Regions from separate parts of the Homo sapiens genome. Here region 2 is linked to region 1. A link means that fine-mapping ties the variant in region 1 to the expression of a gene that starts in the linked region. Tissue or cell type: subcutaneous fat. Region 1 holds a variant in brackets; the other region holds the start of a gene. All regions are shown on one strand. Distances are between the middles of the regions.

Region 1 (10,995 bases):
CACATGGACACAGGAAGGGGAACATCACACTCTGGGGACTGTTGTGGGGTGGGGGGAGTGGGGAGGGATAGCATTAGGAGATATACCTAATGCTACATGACGAGTTAATGGGTGCAGCACACCAGCATGGCACATGTATACATATGTAACTAACCTGCACATTGTGCACATTTACCCTAAAACTTGAAGTATAATAATAATAAAATAAAATAAAATAAAAAGAATTTAAAAGATGCTGCTTGACTTGTCTTGTTTGCATTTTTTTCTTATGAAATCTGTTGACATCCCTATGCTTTTGTCTGTAAATAATATGTTACTTCTCTAGCTGTTCCCAGCTAGAGATAAGATTTTCTGTTTACCACTGATTTTGAGCAGTTTGTTTATATAATGTGCCTTACTATAGCTTTCTTCATGTTTCTTGTATTTAGGATTCATTGAAATGAATCCTAGATCATTAGATCTTTAGGTTTACAATTTTTATCAAATTTGGAAAAATTTTGGCTATTATTTCTTCAAATTTTTTCTGCCTCCCCCCTCACTTTCATTTAGGGACTCTCATTAAATGCATATTGGGCTGTTTGAAAATGTTCAGTGGTTCATGGAGCCTATGTTTATTTTTGTTCTTTATTTAATTTTGGATAGTTACTATTGCTGTGTCTTCAGGAGTTCACTGGTTGTTTTTCTGCAGTATCTAACCTGTTGTTAATCACATCCAGTGTATTTCTCATTTAAGTCATTGTAGTTTTCATATCTAAAAGTTCATTTTGTATCTTTGAAGTATTTTTTGTCTCTAGTTAACTTGTTCTCTCTCTGTTACCACTTCTTCACCATGTGTAATACAGTTACAGTAACTGCCCCAGTGCCTCCCCCTGCTAATTCTGTCATCTGTGTCAGTTTCAATTAATTGTTTCTTCTCCTCATATAGAGGTTGTGTTTTCTTGAGTGTTTGCACGCTTGGCAATGTTTACTTGGATGCCAGGCTTTGTGAATTTTACCTTCTTAGCTGCTGGATATTTTCTTATTCCTATAGATACTCTTGAGCTTTTTTCTGTGATGCAGTTAAGTTGCTTGAACATAGGCTGATCTTTTCGGGTCTTGCTTTTAAGATCTGTTAGCTGGAATTAAAGTAGTGGTTAGTTTGTGGCTAATATTGCTGCACTCTGAAACAAACTCTTCTGTGTAGACTACCTGGTGTGCCCTTTGGCTGCACTATTTTATATTCCCACCAACAGTACATAAGCATTCCAATTTTTCTACATTTTTGCCAAGACTTGTTACTTCTGGTTTAGTTTTGGTTTGGTTTGTTTTATAATGGCCATCCTAACAGGTTTGAGGTGGTATCTCATTGTGGTTTTGATTTACATTTCCCTGATGATAAGTGATGTTGAACATCATTTTAAATACCTGTTGGACATTTGTATTTATTCTTTGGGGAAATGTTTATTCAAGTCCTTTGCTCATTTTTAATAGAAATATTTGTTTTGTTTTGCTATATTCATCAGAGATACTGGCCTGTAGTTTTCTTGTAGTATCTTTTTCTGGATTTGGTATCAGAGTAATGCTGGCCTCATAAAATGTGTATAGAAGTGTTCTCTTCAGTTTTTTGGAAGAGCTTGAGAAGGATTGGTGTGAATTCTTATTTAAATGTTTCATAGAATTCTCCAGTGAAGCCATCTGGTTTGAGGTTTTCTTTTGTTGAGAAAATTTTTATTACTGATTTATTAGTTATAGGTCTGTTGAGTTTTTTTGTGTTTTCATAATTTACTCTTGGTTGGTTGTACGTTTCTAGAAATTTATTTCTTATAAATTATCTAATTTGTTGGCATATAATTCTTCATAGCTGTCTCTATAATCTATTTGGCTTGGTATTTTAGGTTTTTAGGGTGAGAAAGTAAATGTGGTTTCTGTTATACAAACTTGGACAGAAGCTGAAGTTTCATTCTGATTGATTTTAGTTACTTTGGGTGAAACATTACCATGTTTCAATGAGGAAGAAATATATATATATATATATATATATATATATATATATATATATATATATATATATATATATATATAAATTATACTCAGAAAATATTCCCAAGAAATATATATATATATAAAATTATACTCAGAAAATATTCCCCACTATTCCTTCCAGCCCATTCTCTCCACCTTTCTTTTCACCCTGTTACTGCCTATTCCCTGTAGGTAAGAAATCTTACTAGTTTTCTGGTTGACCTCATTTAGTTGGGCTTTTTTGAGTACTAATAACTGTTACATGTATATTTTTTAAATCTCCTCTTCTTGTATTAAAGATAGTCTTTTGCACTTTTTTTTTCATTTAACAACCTATTCTGGATATCAGTTCGTAGAGATTTTCCTCATTCTTTCTGGTAGTTTCCTAGTGTTCTGCTTTGGATTTACTGTAATTTAGTCACTCTCCTATATCTGGGCATTTAGGTTGTTTCCTAAATTTTGCATTTACAAACAATGTTGCAATGAATAATCTGATACATTTATATTTTCCTATTGGAAGTTTAGTAATCCTGGCTCACTTTGGGAATTTCTACACCAACTAAATGATACAAAATTCGAATCCAAGTCTAAATAATATACAAGTCCAAGAATTCAGTTTCTCATGTGAGCACTATTTTCACCCCAAACTTGGGAATAAAAAAATAACCTATCAACTTGTAGAGATGGTAGGTGAAGTATTCTTAGTCACTGTGTGTCTTAAGTCAGTTTGGGCTGTTATAACAAAAGTACCACAGACAGGATGGCTTAAACAACAGGAATTTATTTCTCACAGTTCTGGAGGCTGAGCTGTTCAAAATCAAGGTCCCAGCTGATTTGGTTCTTGGTGAAAGCCCTTTTTGTGGTTTGCAGACAGAAGCCTTTTTACTGTGTCCTCACATGGTAGAGAGAGACCTCAACTCTCTAGTCTCTTGTAATATGGACACACTAATCCCATTCATGAGGGTTTCACCCTCATGACTCAATTACTTCCCAGAGGCCCACCCTCCAAACACCATCAGACTGGGGATTAAAGATTCAGTCTATGAATTTGAGGTGGACACAAATACTCAAGTCCATAGCACTGCAGGTATAGTTTTTGAGGACCCTAGCTTTATGTATTAGTCTCAATTCCAACTTCTTACCTTGCATAGACCCAAGGCCTCTTCTGCTGCCCTCCCTTTACAATACAAGCCTATAGTTGTGACCTTATTCTACAGGCACTTATAAAGACTGCCAGGGGTGGTGGCTCTCTGCTAATGAATATTGTATTTTTAAAAATTCATCTTTTTTCTAGCATCAGAAGTTCCTTCTCTTTCACATGAGTATACATTTTTTAAACATGTTTAAATATTTTATTTGGCAGTTTGGAGAGGAAGGATTTACATGTTAGTTTAGTTCACTAATGTTGCTGGATAACTCACATACAGACTTGCATGGATGCTCTCATCTGCTCACATACCATTTACCTTTGTAGAGGAATTATCCTGCAGAAAATGGCCAGGTTGTCTAAGTGAGGAAATAACTTGATTCAAGAGGCAGCTTTTTGACACATAAACCATTTAACTCTTACCTCAAGGAAATTTGCCATGTCCAGAATTTGAAAAATAAACAGTTAAGGAGGAAAATGGCTGGTGATAGCTGAGATGGAACAGGGTGACTATGTAATTTTTGGAATGTACCATTTATATAAAATATAAATGTTAATTGAATTGAATTGTTTCATTTTCCCTTATGTGCATTTTAGGCAATAATTCTAAAGGAAATAAAATTTAAAAACTGGGAGTATCTGAACTCAACTTTTGGGTAAGATTCAGTGTTTTTAATGCAGTTTATTTAAATTCTACTTTTTATTTCTACAAACTAAACACAGTTAATATGCTTTAAAATGCTAATGACATATTTAATAAATAGCTACTGTCTTAAAAATAGCTACTATCTAAGGTAGATAGATATGTAAGGAAATAGTCCTTAGCAAAGACTAGAAATCATTTTCAAGAAGTTAGCTCACGTATTTCACAACTAACTTTCAGACCACTTTTCCTCTATGTTTCATTCTGCTATATCCATACAGTCTTGCTTTTTAAAATTTGTATGTCTTGAGTTTCTCTCTTTAGCTTCAGTTAAACTTTCCTTCAACATAACTCAGGTTTGTAGTTTCTTTCCACTTTTCTCCTTTTCTTTCCTCTGCATCTATCCATCGTCTATCTCTCTTTCCTTCTGCTTCCAACTTTAGACTCTATTACTTTTGTCCTTTTAACATTTTCCTTGCAGTCTCCCAGCCCCTTCTAATTTGAACTCAGCCACTACCTAATCTTTGTTTGGCTTCTTCCCAAATATGCAGATGGATGGCCCGTATTACCTCCATGGTTTCCTAGTAATATAAGTTATTAGGCAGGTAGTGCAACTCTTAAATTCTCTTAATATGAGACAGATGATATTCTTTTTCTCTGGTCTGTGATGTACTTCTATTAAAAAATAAACCCTGGGCCACACACAGTGGTTCACGCCTGTAATCACAGCACTTTGGGAGGCCAACATGGACAGAGGGCTTCAGCCCAGGAGTTTGAGACCAGCCTGGGCAACATGGCAAAACCCTGTCTCTACAAAAAATAGAAAAACTAGTTGGGCATGGTGGCATGAGCCTGTGATCCCAACTACTCAGGAGGCTGAGGTGGGAGGATCGCTTGAGCCCAGGAAGGTTACAGTGAGCCATGATCACCCCGCTGCACTCCACCCTAGGTGACAGAAGAAATGAACTGTATGTTTTCATGTTATATATTGAGAGGATAAGTCTGGAAATGTTACAAGTTGAGGAGGTAGGTTCCTACCCACAATACAAGAGAACAAAATGGAAGGAGTTGCTATTTTCTCCTTGTTGGAGGCATTCTCCCATCCTTTAGGTGGTGAAAATATAGAAAGATATGTCCACTAAGTTGTTGAATGAATGACATGATGCTTTTTTTGTCTTTTTGTTATTCTTTATTGGTTCTACCAATTTGACTCTTTACCCAGGCCACCTGTCCTTAGGCATGCAGACTTTGTAGAAATTCACATGTCGACATTACACTTGTAATATATAATTCTTTCACTTCAGAAAAATTGAGCAATTTAATAATTCAACTCAAAAGAAGTTCAGAATTTCATTTGCAAACTATTGAAAAATGACAGTAAACAGAAGGTGTCCATAAACATCAAAAAAATTCTGCCAAGGCTGCACTCAAAGGAAAATTTACTGTCTTCATTTTCAACAATATTTTCAGTAGTAGACTGGAAAGAACATGAATTGAGTAAGTTTTAAATTCAAGAATATCAAAGAAACAAAAAATCTAAGGAGAGAAAAGTTGAGATTTAACCAAATGTTCAGCTTACATGTTTTTTAAGCCCCCTAGGTATTATTTTCTGTTTTTAGCTCTGTATATCTTTGGCAAAGGTAAGTATTTATTACACACAACCTGAACAAGGTATTTTTAGAGCTAAGTGATTCATTTTAGAGTTTAACATCAATAGAAGCAAATTCACTGTTTAATGGGAGACTCCAGTTTTTGGTGGCAAGATAATTATCGAATTGAGCGCGTATGAAATTTACAAAGGGGAACTTTGTGTGTGCCATGAGGCATAAGAATCATTACAAGAAGGGAGATGGAACCTCCAAGATAATCTAAAGCTCAGTACTAAGGCCAGATAAGGATAGTTTGAGAAAGGATATTCTTACTTGTGAGCATAGATTCAAAATTTCACCTAGATTAAAAACATTCCTTACACACAAAATATAAAAGATTAGTAACTCAAGAACAGCCATATATGTGATACAGATAATCCACTTGTGATACATCTGGCTTATTCTAGGAATCCAAAGACATTTCTGGAAAATCAAAAAATGTAAGTTATCACACTAACAGATTAAAAGAGAAAAAATCTTATGATCATCCCATTAGATGCAGAAAATAAAATTGATAAAATTGAACACCCATTTGTAATGAAAACATGTAACACAGTAGAAATAACAGTTTTCTCAACCCTGTAAAATTATTCAGCAGTCATTAGTCTTACCTATAATAAAGTATTTAGAGTGTTCTGTTTAAAATCAAGATAAA[G/T]ATAAATGTGCTTTTTCACGTTTTATTAAAGTCCAAACTAGCCTAGTAATTCAAGAAAAGTAAATAATAGGAAAAGGAAAGAAACAGAAGGAAAATTTATTATAGTATCAGTATTTACCTAGAAAGAATAAAATAATTGACAAATTATTAGGAATTAGAAGAATTCAATACCATGGCTAGATATAAGTTTAATATTCAAAAATCAATTGCATTTCTATTCTTTGGCAACAAACAGAAAACATTTTTTAAAAATATGCCTTATGTATTAGGAAGAAAAATGCATAGAATCTGAATGAATCTAACAAAATACATATAGTATTTGTATGAAAATTTATTTTAATAATTCTAAGACAAATAGAAAAATAAAACACATTTATGTGTATGAAGTTTCATGTAATGCAGTTCTCCCCAGCTGATGTTCAGATTCAAAGCAATTTCAGCAAGATTGTCTTGCAGGTCACTTTTCACTAAATGATGCTGGAATAGTCTATCTATATGAGAAAAACCATATGTTATACACAAATATCAGTTCCAGGCCTAGCCGTTTTGAATGTTCCTAAGCTGGATGTCTCTTTGACATGTCTTTATAAATTTATAATGCTCCAGGCTTTTCTTGATTTTCCTCGTGCTAGCCTTGGAATCAGCCATTTTTTCCAAGGAGCCCTGGTTCCTTTTAGAGGAGAATGGTATTTGGAAACCAAGACCTGAGTGGTATGTGCACTCATTACTACCAGTGTGTCCTTGTTTCTAGGCCCTTTCACTGCACGTATGTGCACACGTGTGTGTGTGTATGAAATCATGATTTCATAACTGTAGCTCCAATCCCAGCCCAATGCTATAGAAAGGCAGACTAGTTAGGTACCTCAGAACTCACAGAAAACCACAGGCTGCCATCTCCTGAAACTCCATCCAGTGGCAGAAGACACTCAGAAAGAGGGTCCGGGGAAATACTCTCCATGCTGTGGGTCTGGTATCTACTATTTCCTCCAGGGAGGCTGCCCATGCAGGTAGCAGCAGCGGGGATCTAACAGGTGCCCTGCCAGGACTAGGCAGCCCAGGAAAGAGCCCTCTGCTCTCTGCCGACCTCCTACCCCACAATCCTGGTGTCTCTCACCCTCCACCTCATGGCAACAGGACATGGGAAGTACATTCTTCCTGCATCGGCAGCATGATTTGGGGCAGAGATGGACCACAAGGGCACCAGATGAATCAAGCTGACCAGAATAGCACTAGCACTGCAAAGACTCTGAAAACTAAACTGTCATTGTAACTATAGCACACAGAAGTAGGCCAGGACTTGCATGATAAACCTAAAAACAAAGTGACTGTCTGCTGAAATAGAAATTTAAAATAGGATCCACAGTCTCTAACATAATATAAAAAATGTACTGGACACAATAGAAAAACCACTCATCATAGCAAGAATGGAGAAAATAACAACTTGAATGAGAAAAGACAATCAACAGATGTCAACACTGAGATGAATAGGATGTGGGGATTATTTGACAAGGGTTTTAAAGCAGTCATCATAAAAACACTTCAATGAGCAGTTTTAAATACTCTGGAAGCAAATGAAAAGGCTATAAAATGTCACCAAAGAATTGTCTTTTTTTTTTTAAAGAACAACTTGGTGATTACAGAACTGAAAAATACAATAACTGAAATTAAAATTCAGTAAATGGACTTGGTAGTGGAGTGAATATTACCGAGGAAGCAGTCAGTGCTCTTGAAGATAGAACAATAGAAATTTCCCAATCTAAATTGAGAGAAAATCATAGGAAAAAGGACAGAGCCTCCGGGACCTATGGTGTAGTATCAAAAGATCTAATATTTGTATCATCAAAATTTCAGAAGGAGTGGAAAAAGAGAGTGGGGCTGAATAGTATTTTAAGAAGTAATTGCTAAAAACATCCTAAATTTGGTGAAAGACACACCTGCAGAGTGAAGACCCTGAGCCATTCCCAAGTAAGACAAACCCAGAGAAATCCATGCCAAGATACATTATGAGTTAACTTTTAAAACTAAAAGAAAAAATCTTGAAAGCAGGTATGGAGAAATGACACATCACCTACAGGGCAAAACTGACTTAAATTGTAGCAGACTTCTCATGTGAAAGTAAGGAAGCCAGAAGGTTGTGGCAGAACATTTGTCAAGATGAATTACATATCCAGTGGATGTTTCCTTTAGGAATGAAGGGGAAATAGACATTCTCCAATCAAGGAAAATTAAGATAGTTTGTGGCTAGCAGAGAACCTTAAAGAATGGTTAACTGAAGTTCTTTTGTCAGGTTTGTTGAAGACCAGATGGTTGTAGATATGTGGTTTTATTTCTGAATTCTCTATTCTGTTCCATTGGTCTATGTGCCTGTTTTTGTACCAGGAGCATGCTGTTTTGGTTATTGTAGCCTTGTAATATGGTTTGAAGTCAGGTAGCCTGAGGCCTCCAGCTTTGTTCTTTTTGCTCAGGATTGTCTTGGCTATATGAGCTCTTTTTTGATAGTGTGGAATCAACCCAAATGCCCATGAATGATAGACTGGATAAAGAAAATGTGGTACATATACACCATGGAATATTATGCAGTCATAAAAGAAATGAGATCATGTCCTTGGCAGGGACATGGATGGAGCTGGAAGCCATTATCCTCAGCAAACTAATGCAGGAACAGAAAACCAAACACTACATGCTCTCACTTATAAGTGGGAGCTGAACAGTGAGAACAGATGGACACAGGGAGGGGAACAACACACAATGGGGCTTGTCAGGGGAGGGTGTGGGGAGGGAGAGCATCAGGAAAAATAGCTAATGCATGCTGGGCTTAATACCTAGGTAATGGGTTGATAGGTGCAGGAAACCACCATGACACACGTTTACCTATGTAACAAACATGCACATCCTGCACATGTACGCCTGAACTTAAAATTTAAAAACTTCTGAAAACAAAAAGGAAATGAAAGAAAGAATCCTAGAATATAGGGAAGAAATATAAAACAGCAAAACAGATACACAGAGGGGTTAATATAGTAGACTATTCTTCTCATGAGTATTTCCCTTTGTGTACTTTTTTCACTTTATTTCGTTATTCTTTATTTAGATTTTTAAGTCAAGGATTTAATTCATTTATTTTCACTCTTTCATTTTTATTGATAAAGCTTTTGAGGCCATGAATTTGCTTCTTATGCTTGCTTTAAATGTCTTCCTTAGTTTCCATATGGAAATGGTATTTGCCTGCCATGCTTGCTGCCATCATTCTATTTTTCACCTTTCTGAATCTGTTTTTATTTGTCTTCCCTGTGTAGCATAAGTTGAGTCTGTCTTTGCTTTGTGAGATAATGTGAAAACCTTTGTTGTAAGTTTTATGTGTATTTGACTATATTTGCTTTGTTCCTGTATATGATTCTCTTTAAAACTTTTTGTATTTAAGAAGGTTACTATTATTTCCTCAATTATTGCATATTTGAAACCTTTTTTATAACATCTATACTTGAATGACAGATTGGCTAGATATAAAATCCTTGGTTCTCACTTTTTAAAGTTTCTTAAAAATGCGTCTACACCACTGCTTTGGTTTGTATGTTTCTTTTAACAAGTCTGATGCTAGCCAAATTCTTCTGTCCCTTATAAATTATGTGACTTTTGTGCCTGGAGGCTCTGAGAAATTTTTCTTCATTTTTCATAGTTCTACTGAAAGATGTCTTGAGTTAGTTTACCATACCAGATTAATTTTTTTCCAGTACCCCCTGGATCCTTTCCAAATCCCTATTCAGGTCTTCTTTTATTTCTGGAAAGTTTTCTTGGATTATAATTTAAACACTAGTTTTGATTCATTGCTGTGGTGTTTTTTTTTTTCAGGCACTCCAGTTATAATTATGTGCCTTTCTTCCATTTCTACCACTTTCTCTGATACTTCTCACTTCTTTCTCTGGTAACATTTTCATTCTTCATCATTGTTTTAGTGCCTTTACTTCAATTCCTTCATTAACTTATTTGAATTTCTTTTCTTTTAATCATCTTGTGATTTCGTTTTTATTTTTGATAATATTCTCCTTTTCTTTCATTCCCTTTCTGTGTCTAATAAACTCTTTATTTCTTTCTGATTTTTTCCCCATTTCTGTTCTTGGTTTTTGAATTTCTTGTTTAAATTGCTTTTTTAATATTTCTGAATGCTCGTTTGAGGATATTTAATTCAACTTTTAATTCTGCATAATTTTCTTTTGCTTTGTGAGATTTTATCGTTCAGTGGTGTGGATTTCATTAGCTGAAATATTTGACTTTCATGTTTGTTATCTTCTTAAAGAAGCTTTGGATATTTATATAGGCATTTTTTCATCTATTAATTATTTTGTGTTTTCTAGTCCAAGTGCAAACCTCTTCTGAAAATGTAGCATAGTGTGATTTTTTTTCAATGAATAACTTTTTTCTTTTTTTGTGCTTGATGGCAGTAGTGATGGATAGTCTTTTGGTTTGGGTTCTCATTTTTCCTGCTGGATACTTTTTCCTTCTTGCACTCCCCTTTTTATCCTCCTTTCTTTCCAGAAATGATGCCTTTCTAACATCAGTGTTTTTGTCTCTACTCACTGTTAGGCCCTGCTCTGTACTCCCATTTACCAATCTCCCAGGGCTCTTTTTACACATATGATAGACTTGTCTCTTTCTTGGGTTATTTTAGTTCCAATTTTGACCCCTGTCTTTCCTTTTCTTCTTTATCCTTTTATGGGTCTCCCCTCATTCTATGCAAAGGCATAGGTCAGGGACTTGAGGTATAACTCTATAGATTCGTTGCTTCCTTTTCGATTCATAGGTAATTTGAAGTTTGTGCTGTTACCTTTTATCCATATATGTGATTGTATTGTTCTACTTGTTGGTTGATATATGCAGAGATTTGAATTTAGGTTGCTTAACT
Region 2 (10,995 bases), 94 kb after region 1:
TTTATATTCTCCCCAGTAATGTATGAGGATTCCAACTTCTCCACATTCTTGCCAACACTTTCAAAAATTATGGCCATCTTAGTGGGTGTGAAGTAGTATCTCAGTGTGGTTCTAAGGTTTTATCTTTGTTTTAAATGTTAATGATTCTTAAAACTATATTCCTAAGTATTTACCATGGAGAAATAAAAGCATTTATCTGCAAAAGGACTTGTACACAAATATTCAAAGCACCTTCATTTGTAATATCAAAAAAAACTAGAAACAAACTAAGTGTCCACCAAAAGGTAAATGGATTAAACAAATACTGGCATATCCATACAATGAAATACCAATCAGCAGTAAAAAGGAATAAACTACATATAACACATAACTCATGGGTGAATCACATAGGCTGAGTGAAAGAAGTCAGGACAAAATAGTTCTTCATGTATGATTCTAGTACACAAAGCTCCAGAAAAGACAAAACTAATCCACAGTAATAGCTCCGTGGTTGTGATACTGACAGGAGGCAGGGAGGTACTGGATAAAAGAGGGCAGTTCCCCAGCAAAGGCCCCACCCTCAAGCCTGGAAACCTGCGGCCCTAAATGGGAATAGACATTCCTGGTTTTGTGCCCAAATGTTGCCTTCTGGCCTGCCACATCATTCTATCCTGTACCCATATAAACCCCAAACCCCATGAGCAAAAGAGCAGAGGAGCAAAAGAGCGGCAGAGCAGAGCAGCAAAGGAGATAAGAGGAGGGTCTGACCATCGAGAGGAGTTCAGCTGGGGACGGTCGGAGAGGAGATCGGCTGCAGGACGGCCAAACTCCATGGTTGATCATCTTCACACTCCATTCCCTTTCCAGCTCCATCCATCCCACCAAGAGCCACTCCCATCCAGCAATAAAATCCCCCACATTTACTGTCCCTCAATTTGTCCATGTGACCTGATTCTTCCTGGATGCTGGGCAAAAACCTGGGTACCAAGAGGGTACTGAGCTGGTTAACACTTAGGCCATCTGCAGACAGCAGAGCTAAAAGAGCACTGTAATATGCCCACTGGGGCTTTAGGAGTCACAGGCATCCACCCCTAGATGCTACTATGGGCCCAGAGCCCAAAAGCACTTGCCCTGGCTCCTGCACCTGCCCATCTGCTCCCCATCCCATAAGAAGTTTGAGTGTGCAGTGGCCAAACAAATGAGCCACACCCCTGCCTCACATCCCACAAGGGGGTCAGGGAGCTCTCTCATTTCAGTTGCATGGGGCTGGGCATAGGGACTGACTGCAAAGGGGGATAAGATAACTTTCTTGGAGATGGAATAGTCTATACCTTGATAAAGGTGGTGGTTATATCAGAGTAAACATTTGTCAGCATTCATTAAACTGTTCACTTAAAAGGAGTGCGTTTTATTGTATGACATTATCCCTTAGTAAAGTTGATATAAACTTTTTTTGAGAAACGTTACAAACCCTCAGATATGTAGCTCCAGTCCCCAACCCTAATTTATTCATTTCTTTCAGAACTCAACAAATGTGTATTGAGTACCTACTATGTGCTAGCCTCTGTGCTGTGAGATAAGGATACAAAGGTGACAGAGATGGTTCCTGAGGTCATGAATACCACAGTCTAGCCTGGAGGACAAATGTTACATCATTAAACAGATATTGTCATCATACAACTGTAATAAATGCACAAAAGAAAGGTACATGAGGTTTTGAGAGCTTATAGAAGAGGGTGACCTAGCTGAGATTCAGATAAGTTGTGGCAAGGTTTAGTTGAGATCTGAAAGATGGAGAGGAGTTGACACTTGGGGTCTTCTTCACAAAGAGGGAAGAGCACATTCAAAAAGCCTGTGACACGAAGGAATATTGCTGTCAAAGGATCTGAAAGCAGGGCAACATGGCTGGAGGACAGAGATGGAGGGGAGGACTGAGAAAGGTGCGTTGGAGAGTGGGTCAGGCCAGGTCATGAGGGCCTTCAGACAAAGCTCGGGATCTTGGTTTTATCATCAGAGCAATGAGAATTCATTGAACTACAGATAATGTGAATTGATAAGATCAGCTTTGGGTTTCAAGACGCTCTCCCCGGCCACACTGGGGAGAATGCTTTAGAAGAGAGAAGTGGCATATGATTACAGAGGGAAAAGCTAACAGGTTCCTGGGAAAGTCCTGGAGAGAGGTGATGATGGGCTCTAGTCTCAGCTGGTGGTACAGATGGGCAAAATTGGACAGATTCAACAGGCTCAACCTCAAGGAGGGTTGATGGGGGAAAAGTAGCTTTACAAAATTTCTGGGTGGTCCAACTAGATGGCGGGGGGTGGGGGGCATTGGGGGATGGGCAACAGAGTGGGTCAGGTTTGGAAGGAAGACCTGAAGTGTGGTTCCAGACCTGTAGCATTTGAGGCTCCTAAACCACCAAGCTCTTTCAGACTTTCTTTTCCCTGAAATGCCCTCCCTTCCCCACTTTCTGACAGGAGAAACTCCATTCATTAATGGATGCCCAACTCAGGTCTTGCAGGCTCCCTCCTTTTCTACAGATAGTTCATCATTTCTTCTCCTGTATCAGCTCTCTCTACAGCACAAGCTCCTCTCCTACCCAAAATTGCAATATTCTCTTCACAAGCTGTGTTCTCTACTAAGCTGTTGGCTTCCTGGGGGGCAGGGCTGTGAATTCATCTTTGCACCCCTAGCACCAGTGCAGTATCACCAGAAAATAGCTGATCTGTACATATTTGAGAGATTGAAGTGAGCACATGTGTACAAAACACTTAATATTTCTGGAGTGCCTTTCTCCTGAAGAGCTCAAGAAGTTACAGAACAGATATAAATATATGTTTGCAAGTGGAAGGTGTGAAAGGTGAGCTATTGCAGACACTTGGTGAGTGAAGAGAAGAAAAGAGGAGGTTTTTGCTCTTTACCAGGTCATAGTATAAGTTAGGAATACATTTGGCTGCAAAATTAGAAAACGAATTCTCAGAGGCTGAAACAAACATGGGTTATTTTTCTCACATAGGATATAGTCCATCCAGAGGTGGACAGTTGCACACTTTGGCTCAAGTGCGCAGTGATACCACACTGACTCTATTTCCCAGTGTGTTGTCCCAATTATATTGACCTTTTGGCCTCACAGTCTTTGGCTCTTGATTGCAATCTGGTTGTAGCATTACTAGGCATTTCATTTGCATTCAAATCATAAAGAAAGTGGGAAATGGGCTGGGCGCGGTGGCTCACGCCTATAATCCCAACACTTTGGGAAGCCAAGGTGGGCAGATCACCTGAGGTCAGGAGTTCGAGACCAGCCTGGCCAACATGGTGAAACCCCGCCTCTACTAAAAATACAAAAATTACCTGGGCATGGTGGCAAGCGCCTGTAATCCCAGCTACTCAGGAGGCTGAGGCAGGAGAATCTCTTGAACCCCGTAGGCGGAGGTTGCAGCGGGCCAAGATGGTGCCATTGTACTCCAGCCTGGGCAGCAAGAGCAAAACTCTGTCTAAAAAAAAAAAAAGAAAAAAGAAAAGAGGGAAAAGGAAAGACAGAACCAGAAAAAATTTTTCAGAGGCTCCCCCACCAGACCCTTCTTTCAACTCATTGGCTAGAACTGGGTCAATGACTTCCTTAGCTGTAAGAAAGACTGGGAAATCAGGAAGGGGATTGTCATGGTCGTCTTGGATCAATCATAATCCTGGGTTCTGTCACTAAGGAAGAAGTGGAGAATAGACTGATAATTGGGAAGACAATTCACAGTGTCTGCCACTGAACAAGTACCATCTACTAGGAAGAGCTAGTGCCTTCTTGAAGTCAATTTGTCTTAGTGGAGCTAGGTGGAAATGAATCCCTCCCTAATGTCCGTAGGAACAAGATGCTAATGGTATTGTTACTTCACATGGATAGAAAACACTGATCACCTGAATGGAATGCCTCTTGAAGCTTTCAGCCCCAAATGTCCAAATTGATTCCTCACTCACCACCTCCCCATCCCTACAACCAGGCATTTTAAAAAACAAATTCTTTGATCCAATCCAGCATCTCTTGAGATAAATAACAGGCTTTCCATCCAACTGGCTCATGCTTGGGCTGCTCAGGAGATCTGATGGGAACTCTCTAGGCCCATGGCAATGTCTTCTCTAATAGTTTGACTTTTCTTCCTTTTTGAATTAGAATACTAGTGGTTATGTATTTAGTGAGCTTTAGCACTGGAGGTCCAGAGAAGGAGAGTGGCTGGGTCATGTTTTGGGGTTTTGGGTTTTGTTTTTGTTTTAGTAACAATCACCCATGTAAGAGGGCTTATGAATTTTATGTTGGAGAACTGTTCTTCAGGTTCCATACCTGTGGTCATCTATTATGATTCTAAAGGAGGAAAGGGCAAGAGGAACTCAGGACAAACAGGTGGAAAGCAAGTGCCTCATCAGCTTCCACTCACTACACATAGACCTTTCGTCACCTAAATCAAAAGAGAAAACCATGTTCTTGACGACACTGGAGTGAAAGACATCAAAAGTGTATTATTAATCCTTGCTTTCGACACATTGCCCAGCTACAAACATGAGTAATTAAGAGATCAGCTAAGGGCTGCTTGGGGAACATACTTTGACAGCAGCCACTACAGAACTTGAACCTGAATACAGGCTGCAATCCACGTGTGAGATCTTCCCTGCTGGCATTGGCTGCTCCCTCACCTGGGTCCCCAACATTTCACACAAGCCTCAGCACAGCGCTGAGCGCCAGGTTTCTCCTCTATTCCAGACCAGCAGCAACTTTAGAGTTAGACACCTTGCCCTGAGGCCCTGCAGAGTGTCTGGCTCATGGCAGATACTCAAACACCGAGGCTGAGTGAACAGTCCACGAGTACCCGCTTAGCTCCTCCACTAGCAGGAATGCCCAGGACATGGGCAATACAGAATCCTCACCCAATGATCTCAGCACCTACAGCAATGCATTCAGCCTCGGACACAAACTTTCTGCATCCTCCAAGGGCCTGAACAAGAAATGTGACAGAAGCAAGGTTTTCCGTTCTTCAAGCTTATTTCAGGTTTGTTTTTGTTTGTTTCTTTGTTTGGTTTGGTTTGGTTTTTTGAGACAGGGTCTCACTCTATCGCCCAGGCTGGAGTGCAGTGGTTCATTGCAACTTTTGCCTCCTGGGTTCAAGAGATCCTTCCACCTCAGCCTCCCGAGTAGCTAGGACTAGAGAGCGCCACCACACCCGGCTAACTTTTGTATTTTTTGGTAGAGACAGGGCTTCACCATGTTGGCCAGGCTAGTAACTCCTGACCTCAAGTGATCCGTCCACCTCGGCCTCCCAAAGTCCTTGGATTCCAGGCTTGAGCCACCGCGCCCGGCCCTATTTCAGTTTTCAGTCTGCTTTCTCCTCCCTTCGACTCTACCTGGGACATCAATCTACCTCCCCAGGCTACCCGGATAATTCTCTCATCACCTGGCTAATTCACACTCAGTCTTCAGTTTTTCTCGTCGACGTCAGCTCCTCAAGAAGCCCTCCCTGACCTACTCCCCACCCCAAGTTTAGATCAGGTGCTCCCTCTGGGAGCCGGCTCAGGAGGCCTCTGCCTCCTCTTGGTTGTGCTGTAATCGCCCATTGGTCGCTTTCCTTTTCTAGACTGTGAACTCCACGAGGGCAAGAGGTAATCTTGTTCTCTCGTCCCCATCGCTTATGACACCGCCTGGAGCTTAGTAAGGGCTCAACATTTTGGAATAAATTCAAGGAGTGGCGTGTCCCCAGAGTAGCTGTGCTGGGCCGTGTGCCGCCCGCGCAACAGCTCCTATTTGGGGAATTCCAGCCTTAGGCCTCAGTCTCTCCGCAGCTGAGACTTGGGACTCTGTACCCGGGAGGCGCGCCCGCCGACTTGGGACCCGCCTCCAGGGTCCCAGAGCGACCCCGCCCGCCGGGGCCGTGTCCCTGCCGCGGGGCGGCGGCGGCTCCCAGGCAGGAGCCTGCGAGCAGGTGGGGGCGGCGGCCCCGCCTCCGCGTCCCGGCAGCACCAGAGCCGGTGGCCGGGGAGCGAGCCGGGCGCACCGAGCGCAGCTCGGCGGTAGCGGCGCCGCTTGGAGCACGGGCGCTGCGGGACGGAGCCCGGAGCCGGAGGCGGCGGCGGCGGAGACGTCGGCCGGAGCTCGAGTCCAGTCCAGCCCCCGGCTCCGCCACCTGCAGGTAGCGGCTTCCCGCGCGGGTGCGGGTCGGTGCCCGAGGGTGGAAGGAACGGGCGGTGTGGCGGCCGCCGCCCTGGTCGGTCCCGGAGCAGAGTGGCCCGGCCCGGGACAGAGATCCTGAGGGCGTGGGAGGGCCGGGGAACCCCCGCCGGGCTGCAGCCCCGGGCCCAGGAGGTTGTCGACGTGCCGCGCGGCGCTCACGCCCCCCACCCGCACCCTGCCACGCCGCCCCGGCCGGGCCGGGCCGGGCCGGGCGGAAACAAACCGCGGGGTGGGGAGCGAGGTCACCACGGGGTTGCTTGGTGACTTCTCCGGACTGGACTCCCCGGTGAGCAGCCCCTGGCACCGAGGCCGCCTCGGCCTGGTCCTTCGCGACGCTCTCTCTTCTCCGCTTCGCCCCCGGAACAAAAGGCTGGGGTCTCGCTGGGGAGGGGGCTGTCGCGGGAAGGGCTGGGGCGGAGTAAAAGAGAGCTAGGAAATTGCAGAGCCGGAGGTGGCTTGGGGAATACAGAAGGAGCCCCCTAGTGAGGAAGCCAACTCCAGAGATGTGAAGTGACTTGTCCAAGGTCACACAGCTCATGGGGACAGAGCGCAGGTCTCTGGACACCCCTCCCGTGCTCATCTCCAAGCCCCTGGGGTCAGTAGTCAGACTGTGCTCCAGCAATGTACATTTGGCCACAAATGGGTTTAGGGTCCTTTGGAGGATTAGGTGGTGGGTAGGTAGGTGGCAGAGCAGATTTCCCCCAGCCCCTGACACGCACTCTCTGAAGGTGGCGGGGAGGGCGGGCACCCGGCCGCCCTGGACCTGGAGGAGCGCCGCCCGGGCCCCGTGGGCAGGCAGGCACCGGCTCTCAGGAACAGCGCCTTTGGAGGGTGGCGTGCCAGCCGCGTGGGTGTGCCCGTGGCGGGCGCCGGGGCGGCGTGGGGACCGTGTGTGCGCCTCCCTCTGGAAAGAAGTTTCTGCAGGGAAAGGCCAGGAGAGCGGTTCCATGCGCCCTGGGACAGTGTGGCCAATCCCTGACACTCAGGGCGCTTTGTAACTGGCTGTATTGGGGAGGAAAGTTACTCTGTAGCAGGAAGTTAGGCTGTCTCTTCGCCTCTGTGCCTGGGGTCCTTGGCTGTAAATGAGGGCCTTGTTTGGCATGACCAGTGTGATTTAGAAGGTTTGTGCCCCTCCGCCTCCTCCTTTCCAGAATCTTTTCTCACTTCACAGGGAGGACTGGGAGTGCACTTCTTGTGCCCAGCATTAATAGTTATCACTGGGACTCCTGCCTCCCTTCAATTTTTTTTAACTTTATCATTACGAAAGAGGTCAGAGGAGAGGTTGTTTTTGGGCCTTGCAAGGAGATAAACTCCAGGTCAATACCTGGACAGGACATGAGGGAGGCTTCTGGGATGCTAGAAATGCTTCTCACCTTGACCTAAGAATTACTGAAGTTATACCCTTGAGACTTGTGCACTTAACGTAAATTCTACCTCAGTGAAAAAGTAAATAAAAATGTGATGCTAAAGTCCACTCATTGTGGTAACACACAGATTGCTGCAGTTTTCCAGCTAATGCATTTCAAAGATACATTTAAAAACCACAAAAACCAAATCAGAAAAGAAGTGGCGAGGAGGGGCAAAAGAAAGTTAAGAAGTAACTGGAAATGAAACATACACTGCAGATGCCTTTATGTGCATCACCTCCTGTGATTCGCAGCAATTCTTTAACAGAGATATTGTTATTGTGCCTTTTTTACAGATGAGAAAATAAAAGGTCACAGAGGTTAAATTACTTACTCAGGGTAACAGCCTGGGCACACAGACTTCAAATTCTAGACAGGCAACCTTCAACAGGCAATTTGTGGCCACCTGAATCGGGGCAGAGCGGTCAGGGTGACAGACACTTGTAGGCTGGCTTCCTGCCATTGCCCCCTTTTTGTTCCTTTAGGAGTCTCTGTTTTCACGTAATTGTGAGTGTGACATTGTGTCACAGATTGCAGTTACCCAGCAGCAGAAGGAATGGAGGAAGTGTGTGTGTGTGTGTGTGTGTGTGTGTGTGTGTCTAAGAACATACAGTTATAAGAACAGGGGAAAGCCAGCTGGTCTAGCCTGGCAACGCTCTTTTTAGGAGACTTATTGTTCAGAAACCATATAGTACAGGTTGCGAGTTTGCAGTCACTCCAACACATACACAAAGAATAAAGAATATAACCTAGGAAAGATCCGAGAAAACAAAATGTGATTAACAGTAGAGGGAAACATAGAATTTTCACCAGGATGGCAGTCAACTTTTTTACATTCTAGAATTTATAAATATGTTTATTAATGTTGAAGTTTTTAAAAAAGAAACCTACACAAATAACTCAGCAAAAGGAAGGAAATGTGTTTTCTAGCAAATGTGTTATAAATATTTAATATATATGAACTTTGGTGCAGAAATATTTGAAACATTAGGGTACAGTAGCCTTAAATCTACGGAGAAATCCTGAGAACTTTGTCCTGATGTGTGGTCTTCTAGTGATTTTATTTTTCTGCCTAATATTCCGAACTTAAAGAGGTAGAAACGTCTTTGTTTTACCACCAGTTTCAAGTTGCAGAGTTGAATGTTTGTCTTAGGAAGTTTTGGTGTAAAGAACGTGGGTTAAGGGGAGCAATTTAGAAATAGCTCTGGGTGAGTCCCCTCAGCCCAGTGCCATCGAGCATGGTTCTGCATCACAAAGTTATCTTTAGGCAAGTTTGCCTTGTCACAGTGGTGCTTCTGCCATCTGGCTGCTGGAATATTTAGAAAAGAATCGTAATGTTTGACTGACTTTGCCGACAGCATGACAAAACAAACTTCGAGGGGAACTATTAAATATGAGTTAGGGTTGGTGAGAAAGTGATTAATTGCTTTTTATTTAGCCACTGTACAAAACCGAAGAGGCATGCCTTTCCCCAGCCGATGCTGGGCAGGGGCAGCACACGTGTTTTCTCACTGGCTTCAGCCAGTAGGGCACTTGAAACTCCCCTTTTGCAATTCTAGCTGCGTCTTTCCTTAGACCTGTTCAAGAGGGAACCCGACCATTATGCAGCAGGGGAATTGTGTAGTGAACTGCGGTGTTCAAGTGCCAAGGAGGTAAACTAAAGCAGAGTAAACGTGACAAAAATGCCCAGCGGGCATTATGTGGGCCAGGCACTGTGGAGGAAGATTTTCAAGTGCATCTTGAAGGAATGTTCATCCTATGTGGGTGGTGTTTTCCAGCTAACACCGCATCTAGGATGGTGGCATCCAGGAGAGAGTGCCAGGCCTGCACATGGACTGTGAGAGTCAGCTCTTGGTTAGCTAGGAGGAGGCAGTAGCCAGTCTCAGTGCTTGAGTTTCTGAGGACGTGTGTCTGTGTGAGTGCACATGTGTGTCTGAGCAAGGTGCCCAGGTTGCCATCCACTGTTCCTTAAGAGCTAATGACTAGCTAGCCCTGCCCGGGGCTAGGCTAAGAGCTTTATATGTAGGACATCACTACAGCAGCCCTATAGGGAGCTGATTCTTCATACTCCTTTATCAAAGGGGAGACAGAAGCCGAAGGCTGACTTACTCTCAGAATGATCATGTTGCACCCTGCTGTGGTCTTTTATCAACCCACTCATAACCCCAAGGTGTCCCCAACCTACCTGACTCTCTCTTATTGCACCTGAGCTCCTGGAAGGCAGGAACTGTGTTCATCTCCATTCCCAGCATAGCACCTGCCCCATGCCTGGCAAGTGAGGGGTACTCCCTAAAGGTTGTTGAATGAATTAAAGGACTGTGTAAGTGGAGGAATCAGTAATTGTGTGAGTGAATGAATGAATGAATGAATGAATGAATGAATATCTGGAAGTATGTTCCAAGATCAAAAGACAATTATTTGTTGTGTTTTATCTGTTGTTTTAACTTTCACTGTCTCATTCCCTTTTGTTAATATGGCTCCATCAGGCATAACTGTATGGATGAGATTTCCAATAGTTATCTCCTTTAGGGCTCAGCCTATAAAATCAAAAAGCCTCTGCTTCTTTAAGAAATTATTTATTCTTTTGTATAACTTATGTAAGTCAGAATCCCTGGACTATTTTGCATGAATCTTACATGCATCATTTATTTGCTGTATGATCTTGGACAAATTACTTAACCTCTCTGTGTTTTGGTTTTCTCATCTAGAAAATGAGGATAATAATAGTATTTATCTCATGTTTAAGGCTAATAAGATAGATTTATTCTGTTTTTTTGTTTTTTGATAGGGTCTTGCTCTGTTGCCCAAGCTGGAGTGCAGTGGTTTGATCACAGCTCACTACTGCCTCCAACTCCCACACTCAAGTGATCCTCCCACCTCAGCCTCCTGAGGAATTGGAACTACAGGCACGTGCCACCATGCCCGGCTAATTTTTTTTTATTTTTTGTAGAGACAGGATCTGACTATACTGCCCAGGCTGGTCTCAAACTCCTGGATTTAAGCGATCCTCCTGCCTCAGCCTCCCAAAGTGCTGGGATTACAGACATGATCTGCCTTGCCCAGCCATAAGATAGATTTGGTACTTAGGACAGTGCCTCATTCATAGCAATGTTCAGTCAATTAGCCATTATGATGATGATGATGATGATGATGATGATGATGATGATCTGATGCTTTTAAAAATTGTTTGCCTTAAATGTTCCGTGTTCCATAAAGTGTTCAAGGAGTTTACAAAAATAGCAAACAACATAAAATTAATAGATAATGAAACTGAGGTAAAGGGAACACACGGGTTAGAAAGTGAGATAAAATCAGAGGTAATTTACAGAACCAGAATAGATCATAAGTTGTGGATAGTTTCCAGAGGTGGGAGTAAAAATTTGCCAGAGCTTCCCAGCAGCCAA

Alleles and levels. Alleles are on the strand shown, and positions count from the first base shown. SD is a standard deviation of normalised expression in the study named.
For the expression in subcutaneous fat of the gene that starts at base 5,974 in region 2, allele G in region 1 goes with a lower level than allele T (small effect, 0.39 SD a copy in GTEx).

What was found. PIP is the estimated chance that this variant, and not a neighbour inherited with it, causes the effect.
Region 2: it holds the start of WIPF3, and the variant in region 1 is fine-mapped to the expression of WIPF3 in subcutaneous fat (GTEx, PIP above 0.99).

What each region holds. Positions count from the first base shown.
Region 1 is chr7:29,706,269-29,717,263 of GRCh38, forward strand. It overlaps the pseudogene DPY19L2P3. Among named protein-coding and RNA genes, the nearest start is that of MIR550A3HG, 27 kb to the left of the region's middle. The variant G/T (reference allele first, on the strand shown) is at 6,096.
Region 2 is chr7:29,800,535-29,811,529 of GRCh38, forward strand. It overlaps WIPF3 (WAS/WASL interacting protein family member 3), which reads left to right and starts at 5,974. Exons shown (of 9, transcript NM_001080529.3): 1 at 5,974-6,144. RefSeq lists an enhancer at 5,710-6,619.